Linked DNA regions of Homo sapiens. The protein of the gene in region 2 purifies or fractionates together with the protein of the main gene of each other region. This does not show direct contact. Each region holds a gene or a part of one and is shown on either strand. Other genes may lie near its edges.

Region 1 (9,304 bases), on a different chromosome or scaffold from region 2:
CCCCTAGGTCTGGGCTCTTCTTCCCTGAAAATACAGAAAAACAGAGAGTCAAGGGGAACTGGGGAGAAGACACCCTCACCAAATATATGGCAACTGTAAATACCCAGAAGAACACGGAAAACTAAAACAAAAAAATCCAGGTTTACATCAAGTTTGAACCTTGGTGGCTATCTGTAAAACAGAAGCCAGTGAAGCAGGGGTTAGGAATGGAAGGAAAAACAAAAGCACAGTGCTCCAGGATCACTGCCTGCATGAGTTTAAGACAATGGAAAAGGAGGCAGAAGTTAGCAAATTTAAAATGCCTTTAGTTTAAAAAGAAAGCTCTCTTAATGTGTTTGAATCTCACTCAAGAAAAAGATCATGGCTCCACATCAACTCTCCATGTGCCTAATGTGCATATTGCCTCAGATCTTCTTAGATCTGTGACATCCTAATCTTTCCTGGTAAACTTTTAGAACAATTCTTCTCCATACGCTGCTTCTCACAGCCCAATATCTGTGGCTTCCCAACTGTTTCTATGGAAACAACTTAGAAAGTTGAACACTGAATGTTCATCTGAAGATGTATTGAAATCTCACTTCTAAGAACCATCCTGTGATTTGAATGCCCTTTCAGTCTATCTTTTAGTAAACAGTGTTTACCCCAAAAACTGCTCTTCTGAGCAAGTATTCTGGGAGGGGTGGTGATCTAGCCAGTACACAGAGGTAGGGGACTTGTCTTGAAGGTGCTTTGCATGGCAAGCACTTTGTTTTTACTTAGCTTGCAGTGTTGATTTGGGATAGCTGAGAGAGAAATTACAGAAGAGCCTAGGTACACCTCCTCCCAAGCCACCCACCCCTTGGCCTCACTGCCAATGACTGAATGATTTTATGCCTTTATTTCATGTTACCACCAAGTAACAACCAAGAAAATGTTTCTTTTGGGGAGACTTTATGCAGTAATCTATCACTAATGTAAACTCTATCATTAAATCTTTTGTTCAGAAGAAATATAAAAAAGACCACAAAACCCAGCTAATTAAAAAGGGGAAAAGAATAATTATTAATGCTAGTGTCTACCTCTGGGTCACTATGGCCTTGGTGATGTCATTTCATACATTATATCTCAGTTTGTTCAATTAATAAAATGAAAGAATAAAACACTATATGGAGACCAGATTGTTGCGGGAAGGCAAGGACCCCAAATGGAGGGACCAGCTGGAACCACGGCAGAAGAACATAAATTGTGAAGATTTCATGGACACTTATCAGTTCCCAAAATTAATACTTTTATAATTTCTTATGCCTGTCTTTACTGCAATCTCTAACCACAAATTGTAAGATTTCATGGACATTTATCACTTCCCTATTAATACTCTTATAATTTCTTATGCCTGTCTTTACTTTAATCTCTTAATCCTGTTATCTTCATAAGCTGAGAATGTACGTCACCTCAGGACCACTATTGTACAAATTGATTGTAAAACGTGTGTTTGAACAATATGAAATCAGTGCACCTTGAAAAAGAACAGAATAACAGCGATTTTCAGGGAACAAGGGAAGATAACCATAAGGTCTGACTGCCTGCGGGGTCGGGTAGAATAGAGCCATATTTTTCTTCTTGCAGAGAGCCTATAAACGGATGTGCAAGTAGGGAAGATATCACTGAATTATTTTCCCAGCAAGGAATACCCTGGGGAAGGAATGCATTCCTGGGGGGAGGTCTACAAATGGTCGCTCTGGGAGTGTCTGTCTTATGTGGTTGAGATAAGGACTGAAATATGCCCTGGTCTCCTGCAGGTACCCTCAGGCTTACTAGGATTGGGAAATTCCAGCCTGGTAAATTTTGGTCAGACCGGTTCTCTGCTCTCCAACCCTGTTTTCTGTTAAGATGTTTATCAAGACAATACGTGCACAGCAGGACACAGACCCTCATCAGTAATTCTAACTTTGCCTTTGCCTTGTGATCTTTATTGCCCTTTGAAGCACGTGATCTTTGTGACCTACTCCCTGTTCCTACACCCCCTCCCCTTTTAAAATCCCTAATAAAAACTTGCTGGTTTTGTGGCTCAGGGGACATCACGGACCTACCGATATGTGATGTTACCCCCAGAGGCCCAGCTATAAAATTCCTCTCTTTGTACTCTTTCTCTTTATTTCTCAGACCGGCCAACACTTAAGGAAAATAGAAAGAACCTACGTTGAAATATTGGGGGCTGGTTCCCCCAATACCAGATGTTGGAAGTAAAACCTTTGATGTTTAAAGTTAGTATTTGGTACATTAAAAAAATCAATAAATTTTAGATTTTTTAAAATGAACATTCCACAGAATTATAACATTAAGTACTTTCAAAAAAAATCCAAAGAAAATACTGAATAATCTGTCATCCTAATAACTAGAAATTATTTCTATTTATTTTTATTTTCAAAACTATACATTTTGCCCAATAAATATTAGACTTGATTTTTAAGGGCACAAATTACAAGAAAATAAATCAATTATTAGAAACTTAATTCAAAATAGTACTTTCAGAATATGCCATGGGGTCAGTACAGGTTCCAGATAATCTCCTACAATTTGTATTTCTACTCCATGAACCAAATTATTTGGTTAATTAGGGCACACCATTCCCTAACCATCCCAGATAACTCTACACATAATAATTTGCATACAGAGCCATGGGTTGTTAGAATAATATTAACTCTAATGCTTTTTAAAGTGATTGTTTGTTCTTGTTTTGTTTTTTAGCTAAAATACACCTGACATGATAAACAAAATGTGATATGTACGTACCATGGAATATTATTCAGCTCTAAAAAGGAAGGAACTTCTGACACTTGCTACAAAATGGATGAACCTTGAGGACATTACGCTAAATGAAATGAGCCACACACAAAAAGGCAATACTGTGTAATTCCACTTATGTGAGTTATCTAGAGTAGTCACACTCACAGAAACAGAAAGTAGAATGGTTGTTGCCTAGGTCTGGAGGTAGAAGGAAAAGTTGTTACTGAGTAAGTATAGAGTTTCAGTTTTGCAAGATGAAAAAGTACTAGAGATTGGGTGCATATACAGTTAATACTGAACTGTATACTTAACATAGTTAAGATGGTAAATTTTATGGTGTATGTATTTTTTGACAATTTAAAATGTTTAAATATATATATATATATCTGAAAAACAGGAAAGCACACAGAGTTCTCAACTCTAGAGTTACTTGAGAAAGCACAGCAAGAGACCTTAAAGATCACATAATCTATCCCCACCCCTATCCCAAACTTACAACTAGCTACTTACAAAGACCTATCAACCAGTTACTTAGCAAACACCTGAATGTAACCTGTATTAGGGAATCCACTGGCCTCCAATCTAGAAACCAATTCTTTACACTGATTCAAGAATTTTTTTCTGGGAAGTTGCCAATTATCTGTCCTAGTTTTAATTTCTGGGATCCCTCTCTCACATGTAAGTCCTTCAAACACTCAAAGGTATCAATCATAAGAGACATATGATATGGTATTTAAGAGCTCAAGTCTTCACAATCAAACATCAAGCCAAATCCTGGCTATATCTCTTATGAACTATGTAATCTCAAATTTCTTAACTTTATTGAGCATCAATTTCCCTATTTATGAAATGGAATAATTATTCTTTTTAGCTCATATGATTGTGATGAGAATCAAATAAGATAATATATGTCTGCTTCTTAGTGCCTGGCTTATAGCCACACAATAAATTTTAGCTTCTATTATTATCATTACCATCACTGGTGCTAGTATTGTATCTCCCAGTGCCCTCCCCCACTCTTCTCAGCTCCAACTTAAACACCTCCACCTCTTTCAACCCATTACTTAAAGAAGCATTGTTTCAGGTGTCCTCAACATCCTGGTCATTCTCCTCTGGACACAATGTGATATGTCTGTGCTTTTTAAAATATGGTTCTTGGAACTAGATACAATCCCAGGTACAGTCTGACCAGAGAAAGGGAGGGCAGAGCTATTTCCTACCTACTCCAGATAGCAAACAACAATTCAATTTCTATAACGTAAGATCTTGAGAGCTTTCTTGGCATTCACATCACCTACTGATTCAATTAAAACTTCCAAGCATTTTGAACACATGCTTAAGCCACCCTATAATTGTGCAATTGGATTTTTAGCACCAAGTGAAAAATTTAGCATCGACATCAAATTCAATCTTGCTAGTCAGTCTCCACCTTGCAACAAACATATCAGGCTAAAAACAGCACCTTTGTCAAAGTGAAATCATTAATAAAACACTTCCCAGCAAAACAGTTTAAAGGAAATTCATTTTTATCATGCTATGTACTATCACAGGCAGGGAGGAAGAGAAGCATATGCTACAGGAATTTATAAAATCTGTAAGAAATTTATAAAAACAATTTGAAGCATTCTTTGAGAAAAAAGCTGCTGTCAGATTGGTCTGTTTAGCAAGATTACATGCTTCTAGTTAATGATGGCAAAAGTGGGCATTTCTGTCACACTGTCTTCCCTAAAACCAGGAAAACAAATACAGAAAAATAAAAATAGAACACAAAATAGGAAACAGCCACATTCCCAAACCACAATTTATGAACTAAATGCACTGAAACTTGTACTCAATTGAGAAAGCTCAGTAAGAGTAGGCAAATACATCTTGCAGATATATATTGCACATATATTGCAGATCTTCAGCAATGAGCAGAGTTCACAGAATTAATAATCATGACAACAATAAGATGATGACGATGATGACAACTGGAAGTGTATTGAGTGCCTACTGTCCCAGGCACTGATCCAAGCATTTTGCATGTGTTAATTCATTTAATCCTCACATCAATCTTATATGGTAGATATTATTATTATTATTATTATCCCCCATTTTATCAACAAGAAAAATAAAATTAAAGAGGTAAAATGACTAAGATCACACAACTAGCCAAAAGAAAAGCCAGGATTCAAACCCAGGCATCTGACTGCAGAGTCCATTTGTTGTTCTAACCAACAAGTTATACTACCTCCCTTGTTCCACAAATATAGCCAAACCAGTAATTGCTTGCTTGGAAAGACAAAGTCTGGGGTCACAGAAGCACCAATGAGCCCCATTCAACACCACAGAATCAAATCCAAGTAGGACCGAATGAGGAAAAGTACAAGCTGACATCTTCACAAAAAGCACACTGTCAGGACGGCAGGTTAGAAAAGTAACTGGGCATAATCACTCTGACTGGGCCCAGTCAGGATACAGAAGCCAAACAATAGTTCAAAGAGGACAAGTTTAACATAAAAAAAATTACTAAGCAATGACAGGAGAGTAAACATAAAGATGAGAAGAGAACTCTAAAAGGTCCCCTAGGACTGAGAGACAATATCCAAGGCAGGACAAACTTGATATTTAAAAGGGCTCAGACCCACTTTCACAAATCAGTCAACAAAGGTGAATTTGGAGTTCAGATGCAATAAATTGATAACTGGCAAAACAAAGTCAATGAAGGAAATGCCAAACCAGCAGCCTACAGTCCTGTGCAAAGCCTCCTCCTAGCCAGGATAGAGACATCCACACAGGAAGAGTGCTGGTGGGGAGCCAGCTGACTTAACAGGCCTGGATTACATTCTTGCTTCCAACGGCCCTAGATCACCCCTTTGGCAATAGCCAGGCTGTCAAACAACCGCCCCATTTAAATATAAGTAATAATCAGAAAGGAGCCATGTTTAGTACTCATTCCACAAGATACCACAAAGCTCTACAAATATTCAAGAAAGAAGTAACAACGAAACATAACAAACAATTAGCTGAAAAACAAATGCTGGACAAATCACACCACAAGATGGAAGAAATAATGAACATATACTTCCCCATGGAGTCTGAGAAATTTAGGAAAATCGTCTTCTCTGAAATAAGCACTCAGGAAAACAATGGAAAAAATAACAAACCAGTTTTAGAAAAGAAATCCTTATTGGAATCAGCTAAAGGAACAGATATTGCTGAAAACAGAGTCAGAGACATAAAAAGAATAGACTAGTGAAAATCAAGCAAAATGTAATGGAAATAACTACAGCTGGCAGTTCTGAACACTTATCCTACACTCTTCCAAGCCCTTTTAATGTCTTATCTCAGACCAGGGGTGCTGGCTCACGCCTGTAATCCCAGCACTTTGGGAGGCCAAGGCGAGCAGATCACTTGAGGTCAGGACTTCAAGACCAGCCCGGCCAACGTGGCGAGACCCCGTCTCTACTGAAAATACAAAAATTTGCCACGTGTGGTGGCAGGCGCCTGTAACCCCAGCTACTCAGGAGGCTGAGGCATTAAAATTGCTTGAACCTGGGAGGCGGAGGTTAGAGTGAGTCGAGACCATGCCACTGCACTCCAGCCTGGGCGACAGAACAAGACTTTGTCTCAAAAAAAAATTCTTATCTCAGTAAATCTTCATAACAACTATGTGAGGTAGACACATTACTGTCTTCACTTTCAAGATGAGGAAGCTGAGGCTTGGAAGTTTAAGTAATTAGCGGATGTGGTTTGGCTCTGTGTCCCCACCCAAATCTCAACTTGAATTGTACTTCCATAATTCCCATGTGTTGTGGGAGGGACCCAGTGGGAGATAACTGAATCATGGGGGCAGTTTCTTCCGTACTGTTCTCATGGTAGTGAATAAGTCTCACGAGATCTGATGGTTTTACAAGGGGAACCCTGTTTCGCTTGGTTCTCATTCTCTCTTGCCGCCACCATGTAAGATGTGCCTTTTACCTTCCACCATGATTGTGAGGCCTCCCTAGGCACACAGAACTGTAAGACCATTAAACCTCTTTCTTTTATAAATTGCCTCGTCTCAAGTATGTCTTTATCAGCAGTGTGAAAACAGACTAATACATTGGCCCACAGATAAACAGCAAGTGATAGGTAACAATTCAAAACCAGTCTGGCTTCAAAGTCTGTACGGGCTACATATGATCCCGTGGAAAAAAAATCAAGGCTTTAAAAAGACTAGAAACAACGTGATAGATACTGACAACAAAGGTGAGCCAATATATGCATGACCGAAGAGGATAACAGAAAAGAGGATAACAGAAAAGAGGATAACAGAAAACAGAAAAGAACCAAAAGCAGTATTTTAAAGAGTTGCCAAAAAAAACTTCCTACAATAAAGACCTAAAACTGCAGAATAATGAGTACACAGAGTCCCAAGAAAAACTGATTCAGAAGAATCAATACTGAAATATATCCTAGTAAAGGCACAGGACTTCAAGGACAAAGAAGGAATCCTATAAGCAGCCAGGCCAAAGGAAAAAGAATCAAGTCACTAATGACAGGAACAAAAATCAGGCAAAGATTTCTCCATAGTAACATACACTATTAAAAGATAGCGGAGCAATATCTAAAAAGTCCTCAGAGAAAGAACATGCAATTTGATGTCCAAGCATTCTGACCCAGCCATGACATCACCGAAATATAAAGACAAGCACACAAGCGCTCTGAGTTATCATATTCCTATGCTTTCTTTACATCACAGAAGACTAGGGGCCAGTTCTTGGCCAGCCTTTTGAGAGGAATAAATACTTTTATACTAATTTTTTTTTCAGATACTGCAAAAACAAACCTCCGCTTAAGGATTACAGACTGCAAGTTTTGATTAGAGAAGTCTTTAATAATATTTTTTCTATCTATTTACAGAAAGACAATAAGAGAGCGTGAAGTAAAAGACGTCCACCAACTTGCCTTAAAAGAAGTCCACCAACTTGCCTTAAAAGAAGTCCACCAACTTGCCTTAAGTCCTACTCAGGCTGAGGAGCCAGGCGTCAAATCCAGCTTCCAAGCTTAGGGCACTTAGCACTCACTCGCTTCCTTGCTACTTTCAGCCACCACCCAAATTTTTAATGAATGAAAGGTTTTCAAAGAATAAGGGAGAGGGCACTGATTTCATAACAAATCATTATAAATGCGCTTTCCACAGCTATTGCTTTTCCTCTTAGGAAGACTGAAGATGCTGCTTAAATATAATAGGATTTCCAAAATGGTAGAGAGGAAAACACAAATAGGAAAGTGATGCAACTATACCATACCCAAACGTTTTCAGGAAATATACTAAAACATACACTATTCTATAACATATACTATACTATAGTATACACTATACTGTGCATATACTATACAATACACTCTACTGCAACTAAAGGTAAATAATTCATATCATGGGTTAGTTTACCCAAGGGCATATAAAGACTAAGTTACACAAACAAAATAAATCATAAAAAATCATTTTGCTCTGATATTCCCTCCAGTGTTTGACCTTCAAACTTTAAAATGGCCTAAGAAAAAAAATATATATATACTTAGGAGATAAGCTGCCCTACAGGCTTTATGAATGTCATATTGGCCTTCTGCTACTAATTAACCTCATTTTATGCATGTGAGCCAAACATCTTTCCTTCTTGAGCTTAGCGAAACTGCTCTTTCATAACAAGACTGCTGAGATCTGTCAATAGCTCACTATTACATCAAGCCTTCCTTCAGGTATCACATTCATAAATGAGCACACTGCTGATGACAACAGCTAACACTTACTGACTAATTAACATATGTCAGAGGTTACTAGACCTCCTAAGTACATCCATCTCCTTTACTATTTCAGATAACCCTAGGAGGTAAATATGTAGTAGAATGTGTGGCATAGAGTGAATGTTCCATAATAATGTTATTGTTACAGATGAGGAAACTAAAGCTTAAAGAGATTAAGTAACTAATTAGGTAAAGACTGGATTTGAACCCGAGCCTGTCTCATGCTCTCAGCCACCACTCCAACCTGACTTCCTCACACATGAAAACAGTGGGGATGTTGGGGCCAGACGCAGTGGCTCATGCCTGTAATCCCAGCACTTTGGGAGGCCAAGGCAGGCGATCACCTGAGGTCGGGAGTTCCAGACCAGCCTGACCAACATGGAGAAACCCTGTCTCTACTAAAAATACAAAATTAGCTGGGCATTGTGGTGCATGCCTGTAATCCCAGCTACTCGGGAGGTTGAGGCAGGAGAATTGCTTGAACCCAGGAGGCGGAGGTTGCGGTGAGCCGAGATCACACAATTGCACTCCAGCCTGGGCAAGAAGAGCAAAACTCCGTCTCAAAAAAACAAACAAACAAACAAAAAAACAAACAAAGAAAACAGTGGGGATGTTAACTACAGGAACATAACACAGTAGCCCAAACAGGACAGCAGTCTCAGGACCCCAATTACAGGGGAGCCAAAAAGAGCTATATAAAAACAACTTGTACCTAATGCAAAAACTAAAAATAGTATTTTGGGTGGAGGGAAGAAGAAAGGGCAAGAAG
Region 2 (3,479 bases):
AGCCTGGGCAATAGAGGGAGACTCCGTCTCAAAAAAAAAAAAAAAAAAAAAAAAAAGTGATAAAAGAGTAATGCTTTTCCCATAAAGACTAAGAAGAGTAAGAATCTCTTAGATGTGGGCAGGAGGATTGTCGGGCTCTGTCCTTCTCAGGCTCACCAAACACTTGCTTCATTTTGGCATTCCCATTTGAGAAGGTGTATAGAGAAGTTGGAGAGGGTTCAGAGAAGCATTTTCATTACTGAAGTTTTGGGAAGTAAAAGTAATTTTAATGCAGAATAAAATCTGAAGAAATAGGTTATATTTAAGTAAGACAGGGAGTTTAGAGAAATTTCCCAGTGGTTAGAAGTTTTAGCAACCAAGGGAAAGGGCAAAATGTTAATCTCTCAGGTAAATTTGATTAAAAGGGAAACTGTAATCAGGATTAGGAAACCAAGTAACTTTGCGGTGAGTAAACAGATGCATGGTTAGAATAAAAAAAAATCAAGAAACTAAAAGCAATCTCAGTTGTATGCCAAGTGTTTAAGCTTTACTTAAAGTAAAATTAGAGTATGAAACCTATTTGACAATATATGAATACAAATCCATAAACCCTGAAACAAAGCATATATAAATGCTCTTACCAATGCAAAAACTTCCATCTGTTAGATACATAAAGAGCACTTCCTTAAAAGCGACATGTATTTTATACTGACCGCTGTAGTCAATTTTAATCAAAAACTACACAAATATTTTATTTGTATTTTAGAGACGGGGTTTTGCTCTGTTGCTCAGGCTGGATTCCAACTCCTGTGCTTAAGCGATCCTCCTGCCTCAGCCTCCCAAGTAGCTGGGACTACAGATGCACACCACTGTGCCCAGCTAAATATTTTAATGTGATTGGTTTCAACAGTTTATACCCACAGTTTTGATGTGAAACTGACAAACCTATGGGCTGACAGCCACAGCCCATGTAGAGGAATGACTCTAAGCACACTTAATTTTGTTTAAAAAAAAAAAAATCTAGATCACTGCTAATGTTCAGATCTGAAATGAAGAATGAGGTGATTTTATTCTTCCATTGTAGGATCTCATACGACGTTCTAAATCCTAGATCATAAACAGAATGTTAGATCAGGAAGGGGCCTTAGCAATAATGGCTCAAGCCTCCCATTGGACAGATGAGCAAGGTGAGGCCAAGAAGCGTGAGTGATATGGAAGCCTCCAGCTTGAATACACTTCTTAAATGAATGAGTGTCGGCATGGAACAGAATCACGTGTGTGGCTCTTGTCCACTTTCCCGAAGCCCTTTGATTAACTCCTTGGCCCTACTAGCTTTAGACAGTTCCCTGATCAGTACATCATTAAGCAACCAAAATATCTCATTAAATCCAAGGAGCAGCGTATTTGCCACTGCAAGGCTTGTGGATGTGGCAGCCCTGGGGTAAGGGACCTGCTGCACGGTGACATGACCATCGCTGTGGGGTGCTGGGTGATTGGTGTTGATGTGTACCCTGTACTCCTTTGTTACGCAAGGGTGGTTTGAACTTAGCTTTCAGTAGCTGTTTCATTCAAACCGTGGGTCCCTGCATGTTCATGGCCCCACACTTCAGGGAACCAGCATCTACCCGGTTGTAATGTTCCCCTAATGTTCCCCAACTCCAGAGGCGCCATTTCTTGCCCTGGCTTATAGCTAGGGAACATTGCCTCTAAATCTTATAGTGAGAATTTCCATGAGGTTGTACAGTGAGTGGTACAACCATTTTTAGCTGGTCTGTCCCCTTCTTTAACCTAAGGAAACCACTTAAACTCTTGGAGAGAGAAAGGGTGCCTAGTTCTTGTGTGCTTTTGTTTACATATACATATTGTAGACGCTAATGTCAAGTCTTGTTAGTAAAGTGCACTTTAAGTTATGTAGCCTAACTTAAAAACAGGTACTATATAAAAAAAATTTGCTGAATCTATGTGTAGCTGACAGCCACCTATAAAAGTGCATATATCTTATGCAGTCTTTTAGAGATCCTGGTTGATTGCAAATGAAGCAGAGAAAAACATTATCACTAAAATGAAATATTTTAAAAGATACTGGCTATAATTCTCCTGGAACCACTTGGACTTGACAGAGGTTTTTCAAAAATGATTTAGGAGGCCCACCTTTGATGCTCTTCCCAGCAGAAAGTTGCAAGTTAATAGATTTAATGTCCACTCTTGAGAAGAAAATAAAGTCTAAACTTAAGGTCTTATCATCTCGTTTTTCCCTTTTGAGATCAGATAGTATACTATATATTTGTGACTTTTCTGAGTGGAGTTTGGGTTATTTTGATTCCACAATGCAATTTCTCTCATTTTGAACATTTGCATGATTTTAGACATTTTGCCTTTAAAAGGGCAGGCAACAGGCCCTTTTACGTTTCTCATCAGATTTTTCTCTACATCCTGTTTTAAGTGTGATTAGATCAGTTGATGAGTCACATGATGTTTTTTGCTGCTTCAATGACAGAAATAGAGATTCAAAATAACCACACAGAGGAGTATCCCAGACACGTTGCTCAAAAACATGCTTTCCTACGGTTTGAGTGCTTTATATGAGAGCCATCAGAGGACTGTGTGTGAGGGCGATGTCTACAGAATGCAGGCAGGAGCTGCTGGCTTTGAACCGGCTGAATGTGCAATGCAGACATCTCAACACTCCACGTCTTTCAAAGCTCTTCCTCACACTCCACTGCAATTTTGGTTCCAAAGAAAGGTGAGGAGCAGAACTTAGAAGATAAAGGACCCCTTTTTCTGGACTGTGCACTAGTTTGATTGATGAAGACGTCGTCCTAAGTTTAGAAGTCAGCTCACCTGCAAAGCTGGTACTAACCGGCACATGCTGTCCTGGGCACTGTTCTGCTGGGAGTTACTGAAGTAGAAAGATTTTTAAATACAAGAAAATATTTCTCAAGGAAATGTAATTACAACACTATAAATACTTGCTATTTTGTGGAACACACGCACACTCGCACTTCAGTTTGAAGGGGGAAAAAAAAAAACCAGTCAGCTACTGAGTCTTCAAATCGATGTGTTCCTAGAAACCAAGGATATAGAAAAGTTACTCTCCCCCTGCCCCTTCCCTCCAGAAGATCCCCAAATGGGGAACAAGTAAGAGAGCAGAGAGCTGTTAACATTTCACACTTCTTATTCTGAAAATATAAGTGAATAAATTTTGAGAGTTACGATATGTAATGATTATTCCAACCAGGAGAGAGATCCAGAGGGCTGGGAGTGAGCACTCCTGAGCTGGCCCCGCTGCGACGCATCCTGGCGTCTGGAGAACTCAGCCCAACTCTGTCACTACCCTGGGAGCTCCCAGGCCTCCCCATCCTGGGCCCCCCACCCCCTGCACCTCCCAAGGTTATTTATTGGGAAGACTCAGAGAGTGAAGTATAAAGTGCTTTTACTATTGTAAAGAAGCTTTATTTGGCCCCATCTGATACATCCTAAGCCAATATTAAATGTTTCAG

Evidence for each region.
Region 1: the proteins of ANKH (region 2) and FAM234B purify together in Homo sapiens (affinity purification with mass spectrometry; 2 studies listed by BioGRID and IntAct, with this or other methods). This does not show direct contact.

What each region holds. Positions count from the first base shown.
Region 1 is NC_000012.12:13,046,271-13,055,574, reverse strand, and holds part of FAM234B (protein FAM234B), read right to left. Parts: intron 25-9,304; coding exon 1-24.
Region 2 is NC_000005.10:14,704,300-14,707,778, forward strand, and holds the end of ANKH (mineralization regulator ANKH), read right to left. Parts: 3' UTR 501-3,479; downstream 1-500. UniProt on the Homo sapiens protein: Transports adenosine triphosphate (ATP) and possibly other nucleoside triphosphates (NTPs) from cytosol to the extracellular space. Mainly regulates their levels locally in peripheral tissues while playing a minor systemic role.